2 separate regions of the Homo sapiens genome follow, and region 1 is linked to region 2. The links come from fine-mapping of genetic effects on gene expression. A gene starts in region 2. The other region holds a variant in brackets. All regions are shown on one strand. Distances are from middle to middle.

The links. PIP is the estimated chance that this variant, and not a neighbour inherited with it, causes the effect.
Region 1: its variant is fine-mapped to the expression of PDGFRL in fibroblasts (GTEx, PIP 0.98).

What each region holds. Positions count from the first base shown.
Region 1 is chr8:17,606,708-17,611,095 of GRCh38, forward strand. All of the region lies in intron 2 of PDGFRL (platelet derived growth factor receptor like), which reads left to right. LOC107986919 (a long non-coding RNA gene) reads right to left here. Exons shown (of 2, transcript XR_001745819.2): 1 at 4,333-4,388. Among named protein-coding and RNA genes, the nearest start is that of PDGFRL, 32 kb to the left of the region's middle. The variant G/A (reference allele first, on the strand shown) is at 2,168.
Region 2 is chr8:17,575,009-17,579,396 of GRCh38, forward strand. PDGFRL (platelet derived growth factor receptor like) reads left to right here and starts at 2,208. Exons shown (of 6, transcript NM_001372073.1): 1 at 2,208-2,299. The coding sequence starts at 2,245. RefSeq lists silencers at 2,414-2,473, 2,564-2,613.

The DNA.
Region 1 (4,388 bases), 32 kb after region 2:
GGGGGGCAGGTAATAATAGAACGAGGCTCATTGTGCTGTTCTCAGGATAGAATGAGGTCATGCGTGTAAACCTCTTGGCACACATAGTAAGCCACCTAAATATCGGTGAGCTATTTCTGTTCACCATACTGTACCCAAAGGAGGTAAATCATAAGAAACAGCCAGTTTTTCGTTTTTTGTTTTTTTGTTTTTTTTTTTTTTTTTTTGAGACGGAGTCTTGCTCTGTCACCCAGGCTGGAGTGCAGTGGTGCAATCTGGGCTCACTGCAACCTCCACCTCCCAGGTTCAAGCAATTCTCCTGCCTCAGGCTCCTGAGTAGCTGGGATTACAGGTGCATGCCACCATGCCCTGCTAATTTTTGTATTTTGATTGGAAATGGGGTTTCCTCATGTTGGCCAGGCTGGTCTCAAACTCCTGACCTCAAGTGATCCACCTGCCTTGGCCTGCGAGTTTCGTTTTAAGAAACGTTTTAGACGTGTGTCTCAATCCCCTACAAACTCTTTGTGTCCATAGCACTGTGGAGGGCTCACTGATGCTCATACTAATGGTCCCAAGGTTCTCTAGATCACCCATTGCTCGTCGATCTAGTCATTAGAGTAGGGGAAATTGGTTGAAGCACGTTCTATAGTTTTGGGGAAAACGTCTTCTGCTAACTCTTACTTAAAAATAATGTTTCTACCTACACCAAATATGTATTTAAAAAAACAACAAAAAAAGTTTCTTTCAACAAAACATTTCATTTCTTGAGCATTTCTGGTAAGTCTAGGATTGATTATCCCAGATGTGTTGCACAGAATTAAAATACAGTAAGAAAATGACAATACAGTCAAGCTAGTGCGTTAAACCAAAGACACTGTAGGAATATCACCAACTATGTTAGATGATAATTTTGGGGCATCTTGCAAGATGGAGCATTGTTTATAGTACCAGTGATTGCATGTATTTTATGAGTGAAATGTTGCTTTAACAAGTAAGTATACATGTGGGTGACGTCTGGGATTTAATGCTCAAATGTAAACACTGGTGTGTTAGTAGCATGATTTTTGGCCAAGTATTTGAATATAGAAGATGTAAATAAAACAGCTTTGAAAGATATGTCAAAGGAGGGAGCAAGAAAAGAGGAATAAAGGATAAGATGTAAAATGGGAAATTTTATGTCCACTAGTGTATAATTGTGTAGAATGGCACATTTATAAAAAAGCAAAACGAAGATGTCAGAGGTTTGCCTCCAGTGTCCGGGCTTGGCTGCCTTGGCGGCTCCGTCCCACCCACACAGCCGGCTGCAGGTGGGCAGCTGCTAAGTTGCTGCCCTGGGGAGTCCGCCCAGAACCTTCTCTTGTCACTTCCCGTCCTGCATTCCCAACTTGTCCACTCTGTCCTGGGGCCTCAGGGGCCTGTCTCCTGCCTCGCTTGGTGCCTTCCTGCTCAAAGACTTTGCTTGGATTGCCTTTGGGAGTTCATCCTGATTTGCCCCTGGTCTCTGCCTTTCAGACCACATCCTACTGTCCAAAGCACTCCTCTCTCTCCATCCCACTGCCTAGATCCCAGATGAGATCTGGTGTCTCAGTTACATTGGAGCAGAGGTCAGAAAGCACCAGCTCACCCTTCCCTGTAACAGCACTGTTGTTTGTGAACTTGACTTCATAGCTGGGAAAAGGTAGGGGGTTGGGGGCCCTGTGAGTCAACCAACATTGATACAAGTGAATCAATGTTGAACGTGCCCTCATGCGTTTATTTACCCAGGTGGCTCGTGCATTGGCACAATATATCACATCAGCTGGTAGGCATCCTGGGGAAGGAGGCAGAGGGAGGCACTGTCCCATACAAGAGCCGGAGGGGTGACCAGAGCGAGTGTGTCACAGCCTTCAGTTCAGTGTTGGTCTGCTGAGGAGAATGCACGCTAAATAGCATTAACGTTTGCTTAATGTATATATAAAGGCAGTCTACTAAGTCAGAATGCTTATGAGGGGGGAAAAAAGACAGAAATAGTCCCAACGACAAGCAGCTTAAGAACTAGTGAGATAAAAGACAAACCAGATACAAGGACAGAGCAACAGAAGACAGTGTGTGGTCAAGTGTGAGTGTGGAGCGGCTGATAGGAAGGAGAGAAGGCAGCTGTGAGCAGGCGTTGGTGAGGCAAATGGAATCATTGTGTAAGTGATGACCT[G/A]ATTGTTGGAGACCAGGCCTTGAAGATAAGATAGAGACTTGTACAAAGCAGAGCCAAGGAGGGGCCAGGCAAGGCAGCTCATGCCTGTAATCCCAGCACTTTGGCAGACTGAGGCAGGAGGATCACTTGAGCCCGGGAGTTTGAGACCAGCCTGAGCAAAATAGTGAGACCCCATCTCTTAAAAACAAACAAAAAGTTTTAGCTGGATATAGTGCTACACCCTGTGGTCCTGGCTGCTTGGGAGGCTGGGGTGGGTGGTTGAGGCTACAGTGAGCCATGGTCACACTGCTGCACTCCAGCCTGGGTGACAGAGCAAGACTGTCTCAAATAGTGATAATAAAATAGGAGCCAGCTGGGCACAGTGGCTCATTCCTGTAATGCCACCACTTTGGGTGGCTGAGGCTGGTGGATCACCTGAGTTTGGGAATTCAAGACCAGCCTGGCCAACATGATGAAACCCTATGTCTACTAAAAATACAAAATTTAGCCAGGTGTGGTAGTGGGCACCTGTAGTCCCAGTTACTTGGGAGGCGCAGGTTGCAGTGAGCTGAGATTGCACCACTGCACTCCGACCTGGGCGACAGAGCGAGACTCTGTCTGGAAAAAAAAAAAAATTACCTGGGTGTGGTGGCGTGCACCTGTAATCCTAGCTACTCAGGAGGCTAAAGCAGGAGAATCGCTTGAACCTGGGAGGTGGAGGTTGCAGTGAGCTGAGATCACGCCACTGCACTCCAGCCTGGGTGACAGAGTGAGACTCTGTAAAAAAAAAAAAAAAAAAAAAAAAAAAAAAATAAGAGCCAAAGAGAACAGCATCAAACCTCCCCCAAAAGATTGTGATATGCAGCCAGGTTGGAGAACCACTGATGTGGCTTGAACCCTACGTTTTAAAAAGTGACTAGATTGAGCCACAGAGCCTAAGAGACTTGCTCATGTTGCACAGCTTTTAGTAAAGTAAACTCAAATCAAGCCATATTCCCAAGATCTCTGTAGTCTCTACACCAAGAAAACAGTTTGTTTATTTAGGTTTCTGATGTTACTCAGAAGATTTACCATCAAAGTGGCATTGTTATGAGCGATTACCTTGAAAACGTTGGCAGGAGGGAGATTTGGTGGATTTCCCCGCAGTGAATTCACTGTGCTGGGTGCAAATGGGTCCAGGCCCCATGGCTGTTGCATTCACTATTCTGACTTGGCCATAATACACTCACTGTGCCTGCACGCCTGCCCATTAGTAATTCACAGCTTGTTCTCCTAGCAAGGGTGGCAGAGGCTTGCTCCTTTGTCCTCTGTCCTCACTCATCTTCCAGGGCCGATTCTTCCCAAGTATGTGGCTGTGAGCGTTCAGCTGAGCAGAGCTGGGGCATGTTTTTCTGATGTTACCCACAGAGAAGTGCTGATGAGCTTCTGCTACATGGTAAGATTAGAATTGCCAGATTTATAGTAAGGGTTGGGCATCCTAATCCATAAATCCGGAATCCGAAATGCTACAAAATCTGAAACTTTTTGAGCAATATGACATTCAAAGGAAATGCTTACTGGAGCATTTCAGATTTCAGATTTTCAAATTAGGGATGCTTAACTAGTAAGTATGATGCAGATACTCCAAAATCTGAGAAAAATCTGAAGTCCAAACCCCTCTGGTTCCAAGCATTTTGGATAAGGGATTCTCAACCTGTAGTGTGAGTAACCCATATACATCTGAGTTATATGGTCACAAAGTTTGAAAGATGACCTTGTCAAATTTACATGAGAAGGGCCAGGCGCGGTGGCTCACACCTGTAATCCGAGCACTTTGGGAGGCCAAGGTGGCAGGATCCCTTGAGCTCGGGAGCTAAAGAGCAGCCTGGCCAGTATGGTGAAACCCCGTCACTACTAAACACACAAAAATTAGCCGGGCCTGGTGGCGCATGCCTATAGTCTCAGGTACTCAGGAGGCTGAGGCGGGAGATTCCCTTGAACCCAGGAGGCAGAGGTTGCAGTGAGCCGAGATCACACCACTGCACTCCAGCCTGGGGGACAGTGAGATTCCGTCTCAAAAAAAATTACACGAGAATTGATGATTTCGTTGTTATTTCCATGCATTTCTCTACATGGTGAGTGCCTATCTGGAAAGTAATCATCTGTAAATTTCCTCCAAGTCATTCATTTGGTTAGGACTTACTTACGTATTTAAAACAGTCAACTCATGTTTCTTTTGCGGTACGCAGTGGGAGGCATGCCA
Region 2 (4,388 bases):
GTTCTGAATGGCAGAAATCTGAGAGCAAGGTGGCAGAAGAATGGGTATTCTCTGAGGCCTCTCTTCTTTGCTTTTATTTATTTATTTATTATTTATTTATTTTGAGACAGTCTCTCTCTGTCGCCCAGGCTGGAGTGCAGTGGTGCCATCTCAGCTCACTGCAACCTCGCTTCCCAGGCTCAAATGACTCTCTCGCCTCAGCCCCCCAAGAAGAGCCTCTAAGCGGCAAGAGAAAGAGGGACGACTCTCGGCTAAATGTAGCTGAGCCAGGGCAGTGAAGCTTGACAATAATGGCACAAGAGAGGTGGACCTGGCACATGCATAGTCAGCATGGAGGGGATACTGCGACCGAGAGGAGGAATCTAGACCCAACCCCAGGCTCCAACATGGAGTGAGAGTTAAGCAGTCAATTCATGGGGTCAGAATGAAAAGAAATCTCACGGTGGGGCAATTTAGGCAGATTTACTCTCTCCTGTGTGCATGCTCCAAGTCCTTTGCTCAGAATTCTCCCCAGAACCTGACACACCACATTGCAGTGGTCTAAATGCTTGTTCACTCCTTAAAAGTAGCCATGAGAGATGATGTCTCAACCTTCATAGCCGTAATGTTAATCACATAGCAAACTCCTGTTGAAATAATCACCTAGTTCCCTTTCTTAATAAACAAGAGATGCTAAAACCCAGAAGGTTAAGTGAATTCTGAGAGGCATGGAGAGTTTGTGCCAGTGTCAGCATCTGAACTCTGGTCTTTATTCCCAGCCAACTGCTCTCTGCATCGCAAGGCAAGCGAGTGGCAAAGCTCCGGCTAGAGCTGGCAACAGAATATAGAATTCTTGGTTCCTCCTGCAGAAGTGACTGAGAAGCATTAGTTTGTTATAAATGGCAGCACTTCTTTCGTTGGGTGTTGAGGGACAAGTCCCTTTCCTGTTATTTAGAATTGAGCTCCCTTTAATAGCAGTGCCTGGTGCTGAAGATTACAATGAGATGGGCTGCTTCTCACCGGGGGAACACACACAGGCATCTCCCCCGCTAGCAAACTGCTTTGATCATGAGAGTCTGCAAGCTCAGAAACGCAGGATGGCTCTCTGCAGAGGGACTTGTGAAAGCCCGTATCTTCTGCCCCACTGTTACCTGATAGAGTTGTCCAGGTTCTTGGCCTGTTGAACAAAAAATTGAACGAAATGCACGGAGTAACGAAAGAAAGAAGCAAGGAAAAACAAAGCAACAGAAGGGAGGAAGGAAAACGTAGATTTATAGAAGACAATTCACAGAGGGCGCTGCAGCAAGCCACAAGAGCCTGACGCTCCCCAGGGATTTTATAAAGCGAAAAGAACTTGGCAACACCCTTGGGTTCCCTTTAGAGGCCTCCAACTGGTTACACCTTACGAAGGACTGGCCTGCGACCAGTCCGAGGCTGAAGTGGAAACTTCTGCCTTGTTATCAGAGGAGCGAGGATGTGGCCTGTGTGCCGCCTAATCATGCCTAGAACTGTCTGCACCTGCTGATCTTTTGCTTCTGCGAACTGGCTGCACCTGCTGTTCTCCTGCTCATACCCTAGCCCGTGCTTACCCTAATTCCCTGTTCTCCTGCCTCACCACCAGAGGCCCGGGTTGTCTGCACAGTCTCATTTTCCACGTTATTCCTGTAATGAACCCGTCCTCCCACCCCCACCAGCAGTTACAGGGCTGGGTGCGGAGACCAACTCTGGCCAGACACAGAGGAGCAGCAAGAACCCGGGGCAACGGTCCTGTGAGTGAGTGCATGTGGGGGAGAGAAATGGAATGAACAGAAATAATTTAGGAAGCACTTTTTACAGAGCACTCAGGTTCTGCCTGAGGAGGTGGGGCGGGCGCTGGTAACATTTGGACAATCGTGGTTAAAAGTGACCCCATCAGCACCCGCTGATCCTTCTTGAACTTGATAACCTTGGTGAAAACGCCAAGCGTTGGAGAAATTCAAGGAATGGCTGTTGTAATGTACATTTCACGCTTAGCCTTTCCTCCCCGCGCTGGGAAGAAGTGCTGCGCACCGCGGCTCCGCCAGGGGGCAGGAGAAGTCACATTACACAGAGAACTAAAAAAAAAAAAAATTCCCCAACTTTTTCCCCCAAACCTTGTTCCTCCTGAAGAAACCGAATCCTCCCGCTTCGGCGTCCCAGGAGCCCGCCCCTCGCCCGCCGCCTCCCCTGCGTCCCCGCCCCGCGCAGCCGCCGCGCTCCTGCGCTCCGAGGTCCGAGGTTCCCGAGATGAAGGTCTGGCTGCTGCTTGGTCTTCTGCTGGTGCACGAAGCGCTGGAGGATGGTGAGTGACTCTGGGCGCGGGGCCACCTAGCTTGTGCCCTGACTTTAGCCGGGACCCGAAGCCCCCGCCGCCCTCCTGCCAGCTCTTGGTCTAACGTTCGGCCCTCGGTGGCTCAGCCCCCGCGCCACTGCCTGCCCGGTGCACCTGCCCCCTCCTGGTGGGGTCTCCTTTCCTCCCACTCTTTGCCTGCCCGGAGAGCCCTCTAGGGGTGGTGGCAGCTACCCCGACCCTTAGGAGCCCACCAGGACCTCTCCAAGTCCCCATCTCCGGGCGAACCAAGCATCCCCAGCCAGCGCCTGGTCCAGCCCCCAGTGTCAACGTGTCGGTCTGGGAGGTGGGGCGGGAGCCTCGGATCGCTTCCACCTCCCAGCGGCGTGGCTGGGACCTCTGCTGCTGAGAGCGAGTGCCACCTAAGCTCGGCAATCGCTGATTCGGTTGCAGAGTTCCAGGTGACCTCCCCCTCCCCTCGCAGTTCTGGGCGTGTTTTCGTCTACCACCTTTTGCTTGAATCCTGCAAGATCTGCCTAGATCTTCGAACAAAAATGTCAGTGTATGAAACTTCAAAACGAATCAAAAGCCCACGGCTTATTATATTTATCTAATTGGATGGGAAATGGTGAAGAAAATGCATTTTTTTGGTACAGCTTATGGGACCATGACCGCTGCGCGTTTTTGAATGTGTACCTGTCCTGGGTCCACCCTGTCGTGTACACCCGTGACCACAGGGTCTGGTGTTATTTTTCTGTGTGTCTGGGTGTGTGTATTACTGTGGTGTGTATTATATATTATTGTTAGCATTTAAATGTTTTGTTTGCTCTATTCACTCCATGGGTGTTATTTGTACAGTACATGTTTCATCTGGGTGCCTCCTGGTGTCCTCAACCCTCTCTTGAAATTCCTGGGCTACAACACAATTTTTGCTTAGATTTAGTGGAAAAGTAGCTTTTGCTGTTATGCAACTTCATGCTGGAGCCAGCTCGACCTGGCTCACATTTTTATCCACTCGTTCATCCTGACCAGTTCCTTTCTTTCCTAGGAAACTACATTTGCCAAAAAAATACCGCATTGTAGTTTGCAAAATCCAAGATAGTCGTGGTACTTGAAGTTGAGCATGAGGGTCCTTCAGCCTAGAGCTTTGCTTAATAAAACGTAGGCAGAGCTTCTACTGGGAGAGTAACACTTAACTCTGCCCAGAGAGAAGTTGCCATGAGTTCAGTTTGTAAAATGCAATATTAAAATGCTCCTGGCAGGCCCTTGTGTGCAACCGCTGAAAAGGCAGAAATGTAATTTGTAGTATCATTTTTTGAATAGGGCAGGAGATGGCCAGGCAAAATAATTTCAAATCAGCCATTCCTTTGTTTATACCCAACTTGCCAGTCTTAGAGGCTCAGAAATTGACTTCCATTCTGCCTCCTGGATCTCACCCAGCCCATGTGAGTTTATTACAAACATCTGACTAAATTTACCCTTTCTTTAAGTGTAATCCATACAAACAATAAGCATTTATGAGACAATTGGAGAAAGTGGAATACAGACTGAATGTAAGAAATAGTTCATAAATTTTAGGTGATAATAGCACGAAGATTTTGTTTATAAAAGTACACACATCTGGCCGGGCACAGTGGCTCATGCCTGTAATCCCAGCACTTTGGGAGGCCAAGGCAGGTGGATCACAAGGTCAGGAGTTCAAGACCAGCCTGGCCAAGATGGTGAAACCCCGTCTCTACTAAAAATATAAAAATTAGCCGGGCGTGGTGGTGGGCACGTGTAATCCCAGCTACTTGGGAGGGTGAGGCAGAGAACTGCTTGAACCTGGGAGGCAGAGGTTGCAGTGAGCCGAGATCGCACCACTGCACTCCAGCTGGGCGACAAAGTGAGACTCCATCTCAAGAAAATAAAGATAAAAATAAAAGCACACATATCTATAATGTATGGACTATTTATGGATACAATAGTGAACACACAGTGCTTCATTAAGTTATGTAACCGTTTGGCTAAACCTATTAAGAATGGTTTTTGGTTTTGAGTTGTGTTGTGAGTTGTGGCCAGGAGCTACTAAGGAGAGTGGATTACACAGGAGGCCCTTCCA